Homo sapiens: one gene and its partner. The protein of the gene in region 1 interacts with the protein of each later gene in a pairwise test. Each region holds a gene or a part of one and is shown on either strand. Other genes may lie near its edges.

Region 1 (7,036 bases):
GTTTGTCTTACATAAGCAGAAGGCCTGTTCCTTCAGACTTGTCCTTCCTCAGCAAAACTGTGAAAGAATTCTACTTCTCTTTCAAAGCTGCTCTTCTGGTCTCACATTTTAATCTTAACAACTATAGACTATAGAGAAGCTGACAGAACCTGTTTCCATAAAACAAACACAATCCTTCCCAGTTACTGGCACAACTCAGTATATTTTCAGCCTAAGATTCTTTCTAGTGCCTGATCTGAAAGGGGAAAGAACCTTGGACTTGCTATCAGAAGAGCTGCCACTTACTGGCTGGGAAACCATAGGCAGGTTACTTTATTTCTCTGAACCTCAGTTTCCTCAATTTCTAAAATACGGATTTATTTTCCTTACCTGTAAGATTCGTATAGAGGATTAAATGAAATAATACTCTTGAAAGTGGCTGATACAAAATGTGTGCTCTGAATACATGCAGTGCCTTCTCTGAGGTCTCGGCTGTGTCTGCCTCTTTTTCCGCATGAGGCCTGAATAGTACTTCTTTTTTTCCTCTTTAATGTTACTTCTCAGGCCTCAGAGTGAGTTTCCTTCCTTTCCCAACATCTCCCCCAGAATGCAGTCTTCCCCTTTTCCCTCACAACTAACCCTCGGCACATCCCCTTTAAAGAGCCCCTTACTTTACCTCCCTCCAGGCACCATCTCCTGGGCCAGAGTTCTCTCTTAAGCAGAGAGCCACTTTCCTATACTCTCTTGTATTATTAGGGCTCCATATCCCAAACAGGAATGCTTGCTAAAAACTCTGTATGGTCCTCTTTGAAAGCTGAAACTGAGACATATTTCTCCCCAGTCTGTCCGTCCCCTGTTATGGGCCATGATGCCTGCTGCTCTCTGATGAAACTATAGTTTTTATGGTGTTACATCATCTCTATAGAAACTGCGTTCTTTCTCCATTATTAGCCTGTTTCCTCATCTGTAAAGCTAAAAATACTTACCTCACAGGCTTGCTGTAAGGATTATTTTAGTGAGGTATGCAAAGGGCTCAGCACAGAGCTTGGCCTGCTAGAAGTACCCAACAAAAGAGAGCTATTATCTTTGTCTTTGTATTGAGTTGCATGTTTCCACCTTCTGCTGCCACACTCAAATTCTCCTCACTCCCCCCTAAAAAACAGTTGAGAGATAACACCCCTGCACAAGGAAAGGGTTAATCTTTGAGTGTTCTTAACTAAAGAGACCCACAGAGGATTAACAGCTCCACTTCAGTGACTACCCTAAAATAGCTTTTATCCTCCTGCCCAAGAGTTACTTGGGGATCTGAAGAACTCAATTCAACACCTGCCGGAGGAAATAGACCCAGAACGTTCCTTGGGATAGAATCTTCCCTTAAGCAGAACCCAAAATAGCAACTGGGAAATTATAAATAGACTTAGAGGAAAGAAAAAACAAAACAAAACAAAACAAAAAACAGATCCTGATCTCAGAACCAGAAACAAATCCTAAAACACACTGGTTGGCTGGAAAACAGTGAGAAGAGGGGAAATGGGAATGCTGTCGCCCCCTTCCCCCCCGCCCACTCCAGAGTGGTGGGAGAATTAAATTACAGGGAGGCTGGAGAGTCTCAATGACTTGCACCATTCCAAGAAACATCAAACAGGATTAACAGGGGTTGGATTTACTCTCAGGCTGCTAATTCTTCTGTCAGTGTAGATGGGCCCTCTTTGGAGTCTCTTTGATTCACTATTTCCTCAGATTCCTGCTGCCTCCCACTCCTGGGGAGGCCTTGAACAAATGGCTGCAACTCATCACAACCCCATTTTCATGGGGAGAAAACGTGATTCGACACCCCCGCTCCCAATCTGGTGGCCTCACCTTAGGAGAGAAAGGTTAGAAACCCAAGACCAGACTCTACACACAGTCCCATGGCTGACAGGTGGAAAAACACACAAGCCAGGAGACAGGCTAAGCTTGCAGGTGAAAGCACCGATTCCCCCACACAGGTGTCCCCATATCCTCCACCTAACAGGCCCCTTTCTCCCCACCAAGGTGGGCCACAGCCTGGTCCCAGGCCAACTTTTAGATCACCCCACTGTGGTGTGGGAAAGGTTCAATTCCCCGAGCCTGGGAGAGATGGGAGTGGATGAGGGCTGGAGAAGCAAAGGAAATCCAGGGAGAAGTCTGGAGGGAGTCTCTGGGATGGGAAGGAAGAGCGAGGATGGGAAGGAATCATGAGCAACTTTCCTGGGTCTCTAAGGGATCCCCACAAGAATGAAATGGGGGATTATAAGGGCTGGAAGGCTGGGGGGATGGGGATAGTCAGAAGTGTATCCTCTGAATTTCAAGAGGGTCTCAAAATGGGTAACGGGATGGAAGATGTCGAAAGCCTGGGAGTATGGCCACTGAGGAGGGAACTACAGGTGGGGCTTATTCGACTTCTCCAGACCCAGATATTTGAGGGAAGCCTCAAAGGGAGTTATGTAAGTCTGGAAAATGAAACAGGGTACAGAGCGGGCTATCTGGAGCAGGAAAGGGGGTTATGTGGGTCTGGGTAGGCGTGTCGGAGGGAGGGAGCAGGTGCAGCTTATCTGCGTCCCCCAGACCCGGGTCCCTGGTAAGGTCAGCAGCGCCTTATCTGGGTCTCCAGGGAGCCTAGGGGTCGGGAATGGGGGACCCTCAGGACTGCGTCTCCAGGTCTCGGAAGGGAGGGGACCGGTGGCTTCCTCGGGTCCCCCAGACACAGGTATGGGGTCCAGGGAGAGTTTTCGTCACCCCAGGGCCTATCTGGGGCCGGGTTGGCGCAGACCGGGCCCCGGGTCGGGGGTGTGGGCGACCGCGCTGAGGGGCCCGAGATGAGGCGCGCCGCCGCTCCGGGTACAGGGCGCGCGGACGCAGCGAGACGGCCTCCCGCCCCTCTCCCCGCCGTCCCCTGGGGCCCTCGCCGGCACTCACCGCGCTCGGGGCCCCACGCTGCGGGCCGGGCCGCGCTCGGGCTCCGCCAGGCCCCCTCAGGCCCCGGTAGTGGCGGCGGTCGGGCCATTGTGCGGTGCATTGTGGGAGCCGCGCGAGCGGGCGCTCGGGTCGTGGAGGGGGCGGTGCCGCGGGATCTCTATGGTCCCGCCCGCCCGCGGGCTAGAGCGGCCGGGGCGGTGCGCGGGCGGCGCGCAGGGACCGCTGGGAGCGGGGCGGGCGCTCGCGTCCCTCCTTCCCTCCCCGACTGTGCGCCGCGGCTGGCTCGGGTTCCCGGGCCGACATGGGCGCCGCCGCGTGGGCACGGCCGCTGAGCGTGTCTTTCCTGCTGCTGCTTCTGCCGCTCCCGGGGATGCCTGCGGGCTCCTGGGACCCGGCCGGTTACCTGCTCTACTGCCCCTGCATGGGTAAGGCCTCCCAAGCCCTCTGCTCAGATGGAGAAACTGAGGCCGGGAGAGGAAAAGCCACTCCTCAGATGCGCCCAGAGACACCTTCACAGGTCCAGGAGAGAACCTCAGAGCGGGACGGGGCATGCTCTTCTCCTCTCTGCCTTAGTTGCAAGGGCACAGAGGGGCCAACGTGTCCAACTTTCCATTTGACAGATGAGAAAACTGAGGCTGGGAGAGGTTACGTGACTTGCTTGAGGTCTAAGCCAGTCCAGGGTCCAGTAAATGGAGTTAGTGGGGCAGGACTTGATGTCACTGACCCACGCTGGCTCCTGGTGATTTTTCATTGATTCAGCAAATATTTATGGGGCACCTATTCTGTGCCGGGCCCTGTTCTCTGTACTGGGAATACCGCAGTGAATAAGATAAACTCCGTGTCCTTGTAGAGCCTTCATTTTAGTTGGGGAAGACAAACAATTGAGAATAAGTAGGCCAGGCGCGGTGGCTCACTTCTGTAATCCCACCACTTTGAGAGACCGAGGCAGGATCACTTGAAGCCAGGAGCTCGAGATCAGCCTAGGCAACATAGTGAAAATCCAATCTCAAAAAAAAAAAAAAAAAAAAAAAGCAGAGCGTGGTATCGTGTGCTTGTAGTCCCTTGGGAGTTATCTGGGCGGCTACTTGGGAGGCTGAGGTGGGAGGATCTCTTGAGCCGAGGAATTCGAGGCTGCAGTGAGCTCTGATCGTGCCACCGCACTGCCAGCCTGGGTGACAGAGTGAGACCCTGTCTCGAAACAAGCAAACCCAAAAAGGGGTAAACATAAAACAATAAATACATAGTTTCATAGAGGATGATGAATACTAAGGGAAAATAAAGAGAGCAGGGTAGGGGAGAATCTAAAGACCATGCCAGGTGCACAGTTGAAATGGGTATGGTGGATCATCATTGTGGAAGTGGATGATCTTAAGGCCCCCAGTGGCTTCCAGACTCCTGACCATGACTTTCAGGGCCCTGAATGATGTGGCCTCCACTGGCCATCTCCACAACTCCCTTCTCTGCTGATCCTCCAGCTGCAGCCACACTTAACTCCTTTGCGTTCCTCACACATGCTCAGGTCTTCCAGTCTGCACTGCTGCAGGTGGCGGTCCCTATGCCTGGAATCCTCTCCTCCATTTCTGCCTGACCAGCTGTTTCCCATCCTTTAGATCTCAGCCTAAATGTCACCAGAAAGGATTTCACTGACCTCTACCCAAGTAATCTCCTCATTACCCTATCACCAAACTTTTTTCATCTCTTTCTGGCAATTATCAACATTTTTCATGTATTTGTTTACATGTTTAGTGTCTCTGCAGTGAACTGTGAGTGCCTTAGGGGCAGAGGCCTTGTCCTTCTTGTTCATTCCTGTATCCCAGCACCTAGCACAGAGTCTGGCACATTGTGGCCTCTCAATCATATTTGTGAAATGAATGAACAGGTGCCATGCTGGGATTAAGAAAAGGAATCACACAGGGTCCTTGCTTCTGAGGCATTCACAGGCTGAGGAATCAGCCAGTACGAAGGCCAGGAAGTGAGCAAAGATACTTGAGGAAAATTGAAGAACTGAAGTAGCTCAGAGCCAAGGTGGGAGGTAAAGGAGGGAGAGTGAGTATGGCAGGGGATTGGTGAAAGGAGCCCAGTGAATGAGGCATTCGAGTTGCCCGTCCATGTGCAGGTGAATGGAGATAGAGGTAGAAGCTCTTCTGGCTGAGGGACAGCAAGATCAGAGGCATTGGGTGGGGATGGGAATTGTAGAGCATGTTGGGGAAACAGCAAGAAACCTGGAGTGGCGGAAGCAGTTGTTGCAGGACCTGAAGAGCCTTGGATATCAGACCCAAGAGTCCAGACTTGTTCTTATGCTGCCAGCTCCCCTAGTTCTCCTTGGTATCCCTGACTTTCTACCCCTGGCTCCACAACCTTTCTGAGCCCTGCATGCTCTATGCCCTCCATGCCCCAGGCCTCACCTCACCCGCAATGTACCATTTCCAGGGCGCTTTGGGAACCAGGCCGATCACTTCTTGGGCTCTCTGGCATTTGCAAAGCTGCTAAACCGTACCTTGGCTGTCCCTCCTTGGATTGAGTACCAGCATCACAAGCCTCCTTTCACCAACGTGAGTACTTCCCACTGACCTTGGCCTTTCTCCGCCCTTTCTCAGTCTTGCTTACTTACACTTAACCCTCAAGTCCTCTGGGCTTTACCTCCCACTCCTCTGAGATTTCCCTACCTCCAGCCAGAACTGTCTTCACTGCAATAACAATGCCTAACATTTATTTATCCAGCACCTGTTGTGTGCGGCTGCATGAGAATTAGCTCATTTCACCCTCATCACTTGCCTGTGAGGAAACCGGGGTTTACAGAGGTTAGGTAACTTGCCCAAGATCACACAGCCTGTGAGTAGGAGAGCTGGAATTCAAAGCTATCTTTGTCTGACTCCAGAGCCTGTGACTTGAACCTAAAGCCTCCATTTCCTTCCCTGATTGGTCCTACCCTCTGTGCATTCCATTGGCCAAGGGTGGCAGATGCTATTATCAATTTTAAAGGAGACATGCAGGCACAGGTTATTTAATGACATGTCCAAGGCCACAACCCAGGTAGTCTGGCTTCAGTGCTGCCTCTCACCCCATCAAGGGGCTCCCTTGTCATGCGATGCTCACCGGCCCCCAGTTCCTTGCTTATTCTTTGTGTCTTCCAGTGACCTTGTGTCGTTGTTCATATTGTATCTCCCGGAGCCTGGCAGTAGGAACTTAATTAGTATTTGATGAATTGACTTAATAATTTTCCAATAGACATCAGAAATAATACTTAGTGTGAACAAAACACTTAATTTCATTCTTACAACCTTTTCTCTGCATAGATTTTACTTTTTCCTTTGCATGCCAGTATTTACAGAGGTTTTGAGCAGCAGTCAAAAGCCAGAGTACCAGAGATCATAGTCTGACTTGGGTTCTTACTAGTTGCATGGCCTGGACAGGGTACTTTACCTCTTTGTGCCTCAGTGTCCTCATTTTAAAAATAAGCTGGTAATGATTCTTGTTACCCTCTTGTGGTAAGGACTGAATGTGTCAGTGGCAGTAACACGCCTTCAGTGTTGTCATATGCCGCCTCCCTCTTAGAATCAACTGAGCTTATCAACGTACAGATCCTAGAGTCCTCAGTTAATGGAAACCATTGATGTTCTGATAATTTCGCACTCACTATTTTTTTTTTTTTGAGATGGAGTCTTGCTCTCTTGCCAGGCTGGAGTGCAGTGGCACGATCTCAGCTCACTGCAACTTCTGCCTCCCGGGTTCAAGCGATTCTCCTGCCTCAGCCTCCTGATTAACTGGGACTACAGGCGCACCACCACGCCCAGCTAATTTTTGTATTTTTAGTAGAGACAGGGTTTCACCATGTTGGCCAGGATGGTGTCAATCTCTTGACCTCATGATGTGCCTGCCTTGGCCTCCCAAAGTGCTGGGATTATAGGCATAAGCCACTGCGCCTGGCCTCGCACTCACTATTACAGTGTAGACATTGCCCATCCATCTCCCTCTGGCTTGCTTGCCTCTGTCTCCTTGCCTTCTCAGCCAGTTGTCTTTCCAAGTCCCCACTTCCTTGCTTTCTGTGGCTTACTAACCTGCTCCAACAAGGCTCTTCTTCGCCACTGTTAGCATTCTCACTGAGGTCACCAGTGACCTC
Region 2 (7,570 bases), on another chromosome or scaffold:
GGAGCCACATTTGGAGAATTGAACTCATCTTTTAAAAAAAAAAATCTGAATTTCTACAGTGAAACTATTTTATTTTACTTGATTGTGGGGCTGCATGTATGAAGTATGAACATCGCTGCCCCAGTGTACTGGTACTGTAGTTGTATAAATCTTGAATGACCTGTGAAAATCTTACTTTTGCTTAGTATTAATATAAGTGATACATAACTAAAGTTGTAACACTTTATTTTTATATTAGCTACCACTTATAGAGCATCTACTAAATGCCAGCCTCTATACTTAGAACTTGACACGTGCTAGTTTCTCATTCACTTCTCAGCACAGCTTTAGGAGGCATATTATTTTATAGATAGGGAAAATAAGGCTGAGAGAAGGTAAGTGATTTAACAAGGACACACAGACCTGAAATGGCAATGTGGGAATCTGAAATCAGATCCTTTTGATATCAAAGGCTATGCTCTATCTGCTCTGCTATATTTAATATTCTGGTTCCGTACATACGTCAAATAACAGTTGATTAATGCAATCAGCTTTAGAATCTCTGATGGGCTTTACTTACCACCAAGTGAAGAAAAGCACCTTATAAAGAGCAACTCTAGAAATGGAATCTCATATCTGAAGATCATTATAACCTAGAAAATTGTACCTGGTTACAAACTTGGTGCCTTAAATAGGGCCAGAGTCTAACCAAACAAAAAGTTATTAGCAAGATAAACCATAACAACCAGCATATGGCAAAAATCCGTACTATAGAGGTTTATTTTCTCCATTTGGAAGATTTCATTTTACTAGACAAAGTGTATGGGATCACAAGCATTACTGTTTGCAAAATTAACAGTATAAACAGGAAAGTGTTAACAGCTCAAATTAAATACGGGAAAGCAATCCTAACATCCTAATGTAGCTAGTTTTATTTTCCCTACATTTACTCGATTCGCTAAACATTTATTCAACTGCATGTTGAACCGTCATGTTTTTAGGCTGTAAGATCTTTCACAACGAAAGATCCCAAGTAAAAGAAGTGTTTCATTTGCCTGCATAGACTCTGACCAGTAAGTTCTCCATCAATACTTCTTATGAACAGCATCATCACTATCATAACTAGGGGTTTAATAGTATCTCTTAATTGAAAAGGCCTGTTTTTTATTTTACCAAATTAACATAACTTTCTTCTTTAACTGAAAACTTACACGAGCGAGTGATCTTTTCGTTCTGTTATGTGGAACTTTGCATAAGAAATTTTTCCAAGTATATTCTACACATTTTTTAGAATGGCGTGATACTTTCCTATAGTCCTAATTCAGTTTTTTTAATATTGCTGTTTAAATGTGAAATCTTACACAACGATAATTTGTATCTTTTCAGGCACTAAACTTTCTTCTGTTATTAAATGTAACATTTAGCTGAAACATACGTAACTCCAATATCAGTAAAGAATCAAAGATTTTCAAATAAGACTAAAGGAAAACATTCAAACATAATGTTATTGTATGCTGAAAATATTTATATGTGTCAGAAAGTAAGTTCCTTTCTCCCTTAATCAAACACTCAAGAATCGGACTATAATTTATCCACTTCACTACTATTTTGTTCAATTATTACAAATTTTAATTTTTTAAAAGTTTTCCAAACAACATTAGTAATGTTATTTCTGATTTATGAGTCACTAAGACAAATGGCTAACACATAAAGAGTATTTGCATTATTAAAATTAAGTTTTCAGAGATCAATTAATAGTGCTATAAATGAGTCATTTAAAATTAACTCCCAGTCCCTGTCTTTTCCTCCGCTTTCCAGAGGAACTATTTCTGAACTGTCCCAGTGAAAAGTATTTTTGCCTGTGTTGAGCTTTGAGAGGGATGTATTTTTAGAACACCAATATTACACTATCACCCATAGGGTAGACATAAAAAAACACTGCTTTTTGCTGATGAAACTTAGTGACCCCGTCCCTTGGAGTTGGCACATTCAACTGTCTGCTGCCTACCAAGGGTCAACCCACAGTCGTGAAGTGTACCAGTAAGTGCTCCACATTCCCACTGGGGCCTTCTATCTTCCTAAGAGTGTTCTCTGACAGGGCTGTTCCCTGCCCAGTGAAACAAAGGACCAAAGATTTTCTCAAAAATGTTTAAAAATTTGACCCATGTAACGCGGACACTCCACACTCACGGAAGTGGGCAGAAGGGGGAGGGGGAAAAAAAAGGAAAGAAAAGCTTCTTCAGCCTCAGCGCGGAGCAGCTGCTCTTCCTTACCCAGACGGGACAGTCGTGGACCACCAGCTTGACATTCCCAAACGCACTGGCCTGATACTCGGTGAACACCGGACGCGCGACCGTGCTGGCCGCGTTCAGCAACAAGCTGCTCTCGTCCCCGGAGACCAGAGGGCTTCTCCCCAGGTAAGTGCGGATAAGCCCCGACGGCCGGTTGTCCTGGTGGAATGTGTCCCCCTCGTTCCCCAGCGCCACGATGTGGATGGACCTGCACGGACAGAGGGGGCGAGGGGAGAAGGGAAGCACGGTCAGCGCGCGGGTCTCTCCTCGGAACAGGAAGTGCGGGGGACAGCGCGCGGCGAGGATGGGCACCAGCCCCTGTCCCTGGGGCGCACGGCACGCGCTGGAGAGAGACAATGGCAGGACGGCGGCGCGTACGTACATGATCTCAAATCCAAGGGCAGGGCGGCGACTCGGAGAAAAGCAGCGGCTCACGGCTTCGCGGGGCCCCCGGGCGGCGAGTTCACCCGCAATCCGCTCATCCCCGGCCGCGTCCCCCTCGCGCGCCTCCACCGCGGCGGGGCCGACGCAGAGCGGGGCCGGGGCCGCGCCAGCCAGCGAGCGAGCCGGGGACCAGGGCGGGCTAGCGGGCGGGGGATAAGCTGCCGCTACTCAGGGAGTGCCCGGGAACATCGCCGGGCGCGGGACCGCCGCACAGCCCCAAGTGGACGCAGCTGACCGCAGTCCCCTCTCCGCCGCGCCTCCTCGGCTGGCAGCTGTCGCCTCCTGCTGCCGCTGCCGCTGCTCCTCCTCCTCTAAGCAGAGAAGGGGGGTCGGGGAGATCGGGGCCTCCGCCCCCTCAGCGGACCGGGCGCAGCACGTGCCAGCCCCGGGGGTCGGGCGGATGCGGGGGACGCGCTCCCCGCGGAGGCCCCGGGAGCTCCGGTGGCGGCGGCTGGACACAAAGGAGCCGCCCGCGCGGGGCGCCGCGGAATATAAATTAATAAATACAACGCCCCAGCCCGAGAGCTCCCAGCCGCCAATCCGCCTGCAGCAAGTTTGTTCAACTCGCAAGGCCGTAACCAGAGCCAGGAAAGGGGGGTGGGGCGATGGGGCCCCCGCTCACTCCGGACTGGAAAAAGGAGGTTAGGGAAGCTAGGGATTCCAGCCCGAGTGCCGCCCCAGCAACCCGATTTCCCCCCCTCTTGGCCTTGACCGAAAGTGCTTTACCACGTCTGCCGCTTTCTCATTTGTCAACATGCGCTACAGCTGTTTTCTAAAATCATACTTGTGAGAAAAAATAAAGGCAACATTCATGCTGCTGCAGAAAGAGTTCTTTGTTCACACACCAATTAATTTGCTAATGTCGCCTTGGGGGGATTATTTACTATTTCAAGCTATATTTAGCGTATTTTACCGAAAACTTCAGGATTTTAAATGCTGGGATTTTTAGTGTGATCGTTTTTAAAGGAAGTTATGTATGGGGGTTTAACGTGTTGGTAAGTTAAATGCCAGTTTACTTGGAGATTTTTCTGTACACGTTATGGCCACATATTTAATAATAGCTCCGCAGACCAACTGAAAACATAATCACGTAAATGCAAAGATACTTTAGATTCTTTCATAATAATGCACTGAAGTAAAGGCTATGAATATCCCTAACGTGCTTCAAACTACCTCGATACAAACGAACACTGGGATCCACTTACTAACACCAAAATGGGCCAGGGATTACTCTGGGGTTAGACTCCTCCATACAGTATTAAAATTCTAACCAGTACCTTACTCTGTGTTGAAAAGAGTTCTTGCTTATCCTTTTATCTGTTTATTTTTCCCTTCTGTAAAATTGGACTGTTTCTTTTCTCAGCTGAGCTATTTTGAGGGTATGAAAGAGGGGGTATTGAGTAGGGCAGTAAAAAAACTAGGGCAACAGCTTTTTATTATGGGCCCTTATTGCTCGGTTGAAAGTAGTTTAATAGTTTCTCGTGCTCAGAGAGGATATAATGGGAGATATTCTTTATGTGGTCACTGTTTTTTTTTTTAATCTAATTTCCCTTTGCATTTTCTACGATTTCTCTTTGAGTCTCTAGAACCTAAACCATCCTTAAAAATTCCAGCATGCAAGATCACTTTTTCTCTTGGGTTAATAGAAAATATATTTTCTCATCAGTCTTTTCCGGAAACCCATAAGTCAAAAACAAAGACACTAGAATGGATGAATGGATAAAGAAAATGTGGTATACACATGTAATGGATGATTAGCGTTTAAAAAAGAAGAAAATTCCTTCATAAACTACAACATGGATGAACCTTGAGGACCTTGTGCTAAGTGGAATCAGCCAGTTGCAAATCACAAAAAGTGATTCCATTTATATGAAGTATCTAAAGTAGTCAAACTCTTAGAAACAGAAAGTAGAATCATGGTTACCAGGGGCTGGGGAGAGGGGAAAAGGGGGCGTTGTTCAACAGGTATAGTGTTTCAGGTTTGCAGGAAGAAAAAGTTACAGAGATCTGTTGCATGAGGTGCATATATAGTTCGTACTATACTGAACTATAGAACTGAACGCTAGAACATTGTTAACTAAACACTAGAGCGTGTACTGAACACTAGAACATGATTAACATGGTAACTATTGTTATATTTTATGACAATATAAAAATATTAATACAAAAATGAAACAAAAATAGACACCAAAGTTGCTGACAACTTGGAAGTGTCAGAAAGGGAGAAAGTATTCATTTTTTCCTTAGTTACTCAATAGGTGAGCCAAGCCTGTGCTGGGTAGGCATAGGAGATCCCAAGGTACATAAGACTTGGTCATTGACCTTAAGAAGCTAAAGCAATTTGTTACCAGAAAGGGGTCCCAATCCTGACTCCAAAAGAGAGTTCTTGGACCTCCAGCGAAGAATTCAGGGCAAGTCCATAAAGTGAAAGCCAGTTTATTAAGAAAGTAAAGGAATAAAATAATGGCTACTCCATAGGCAGAGCAGTGTCATGGGCTGCTCGACTGAGTATACTTATAGTTATTTCTTGATTATATGCTAAACAAGGGGTGGATTATTCATGAGTTTTTCTGGAAAGGGTGGGCATTTCCCAGAACTGAGAGTTCCTCTGCTTTTTAGACCATATAGGGTAACTTCCTGACATTGCCGTGACATTTGTAGACTCATTGTGCTGGTGGAGTGTCTTTTAGCATGCTAGTGCATTATAATTAGCATATAATGAGCAGTGAGGTTGACCAGAGGTCACTGTCACCACCATCTTGGTTTTGGTGGGTTTTGGCCGGCTTCTTTACGGCATTCTGTTTTATCAGCAAGGTCTTTGTGACCTGTATCCTGTGCTGACCTCCTATCTCATCCTGTGGCTAAGAATGCCTAACCTCCTAGGAATGCAGCCCAGTAGGTTTCAGCCTTAGTGTACCCAGCCTCTACTCAAGATGGAGTCATTCTGGTTCAGACCCCTCTGACATATTAATTAGTTTGTGAATATTAGCACACTCAATCCTTTTGAAAACATTCTAGTTCCTAGACCTAGGCCTAGGCAGTCAGTAAAAGAGATAGGTACAAAGGCAGTCAGTAAAAGAGATAGGTACAAAGTAAAAGATAAGTTCAGTGAATGTTAGGAAGAGATCTGTGCTTTCTGTGTCAGAAGTTCATAAAGAAAGTAAACATTGTCTTAGGTCTTAATAGATTAAGAATTTGTTAGATTTGGAAGAAGAGGAGGTTAGAAGGGAAGGAGTATTTCAAAGAACTGGACAGACATCACATGCAAAGGTATAAAGAAATGGAAGATCATGGCTTGTCTTAGGAACAGCAAGAGATGAAGTTAGTGCTGGCATGAAGGTTTCTATATTAAAGCAGGCAGAAAAAAGAGTGGTGGAGGCTTCCCAAGAGATTTCTGGAGTCATACCTGGTGATACTTAAGCTACAAATTGAGTATCTGGTACAAAGCCTGGCTACATACTCACCAAACCTGTTTTCTCTTCCAAGATAGCTAAATGACGTTTCTCAACTTTTGTGCATATAGGTAGGGCCACATGATTAGTTCTCATCAACGGAATATGATCCCTGCTGAGCAGTAGAGAAGTGTGTCTCTCCATTCTCTTTTATCTTCCTGTCTCAACCACATGAAGTCAGGTCAACCTTGAAGCCAGGTGTTTGAAGCTATTAGCACTGCAGTGTGGAACCAGTCCTTGAATGACTAGTTACAGCAGAGCCTCCTCACAGAATGCATTGTACTGTGATTTGAGTGATAAATAGATATTCAGTGAGTTGAGCCAGACATTTTGAGGTCAATTATTACAGCAGTTAGTGTTATTTATCTTGGCTAAAAGAATATCACAGATGGTCCATTTCCTGATATCCTAAAGATCTTTTCATAATTTTCTTATGACCACTTTTTTAAAGTTATTTCCCTTGTATTTTAAATTTTTATTTGGTTTATGTATTTGCAGTTTCTCTCATCAGCACATTTAAAAAATTTTATTTTACCAGTGTTAACAGAACAGATATCACATGTCCTCCAACCTCAAGGTCACTGGGGAACACACAGGAAGGGCTTCCAACCCAAACAATATTTTTTTCCTATTTTAGTGGCTGAAATGCCACCATTTCATATTTACTCTATTAGATGTTTTTATCCCTAAATAAGATGTAGCATAAAGTACAGTAAGGACATGTAAAGTAATTCAGTGGGCTATTACTAGTCCCCAAATTGTGAATATTCATATACCAGTTTTTGAAAAACGTGTTGGTTCCTTAACAGCTGGAGAGGAAGTAAGCATTGGTGAGGGCAGGCCTAGAGATCTCGGCTTGGCAGAAGATTTTTTCCAACTATGTTTTAAGGAAAACTAGGTTTGCATAGAAGAATCTTCAAATCAGCTTGAGGAGGTGGCAGAAAAAGAGTAAGCAGTGAGATCTGAACTCTGACAAAGGCATCTTAAAGCCAATCAGAGCAGTCTTATTGCTGTCTTTTAAAAAAATATTAAAGTTTCATATTCATTTTCATTAAAAAGATGGGTTTTCTAAGGTTAAAAACAAACGCAATTTTTAAGACTACTTATCTAGAGCCAGAGTCTTCAAGGTGGGGTACAGAAGATGATCCCTGAAATTCCAGAATAAACTTCTAATCACACACATTATTTTTTACTGAAAAAAAAAAGGGGGGAAACGAAATTAAGCTTTACTACTAGTTAATGTTGGGATTGATGCTGGTACCCCAGGTTGACCAGTAAGTGGGCAGATACAAGGAGTGTTGGGGGCATGGCAGCAATAGGATACACAGTGAGGGGCAGCGGGAGGGCTGCCTCCTTTGTTCACTTTCAATATATTGCCACATGTTGCAGTTTCTGTTTCTAAGG

The links. The genes of interacting proteins can lie anywhere in the genome.
Region 2: the proteins of PLAGL2 (region 1) and RHOBTB3 interact in binary tests that used the Homo sapiens proteins (3 or more experiments, as listed by UniProt).

Annotation. Positions count from the first base shown.
Region 1 is NC_000020.11:32,204,725-32,211,760, forward strand, and holds the start of PLAGL2 (zinc finger protein PLAGL2), read right to left. Parts: upstream 3,020-7,036; 5' UTR 2,917-3,019; intron 1,840-2,916; exon of another isoform or gene 1,572-1,839; intron 480-1,571; exon of another isoform or gene 370-479; intron 359-369; exon of another isoform or gene 1-358. Other genes in the region: POFUT1 (GDP-fucose protein O-fucosyltransferase 1 isoform 1 precursor), read left to right, coding at 3,218-3,341, 5,347-5,468. UniProt on the Homo sapiens protein: Shows weak transcriptional activatory activity.
Region 2 is NC_000005.10:95,726,767-95,734,336, reverse strand, and holds the start of RHOBTB3 (rho-related BTB domain-containing protein 3), read right to left. Parts: upstream 3,002-7,570; 5' UTR 2,655-3,001; coding exon 2,653-2,654; intron 2,645-2,652; exon of another isoform or gene 2,479-2,644; coding exon 2,253-2,478; exon of another isoform or gene 2,235-2,252; intron 1-2,234. UniProt on the Homo sapiens protein: Rab9-regulated ATPase required for endosome to Golgi transport. Involved in transport vesicle docking at the Golgi complex, possibly by participating in release M6PRBP1/TIP47 from vesicles to permit their efficient docking and fusion at the Golgi.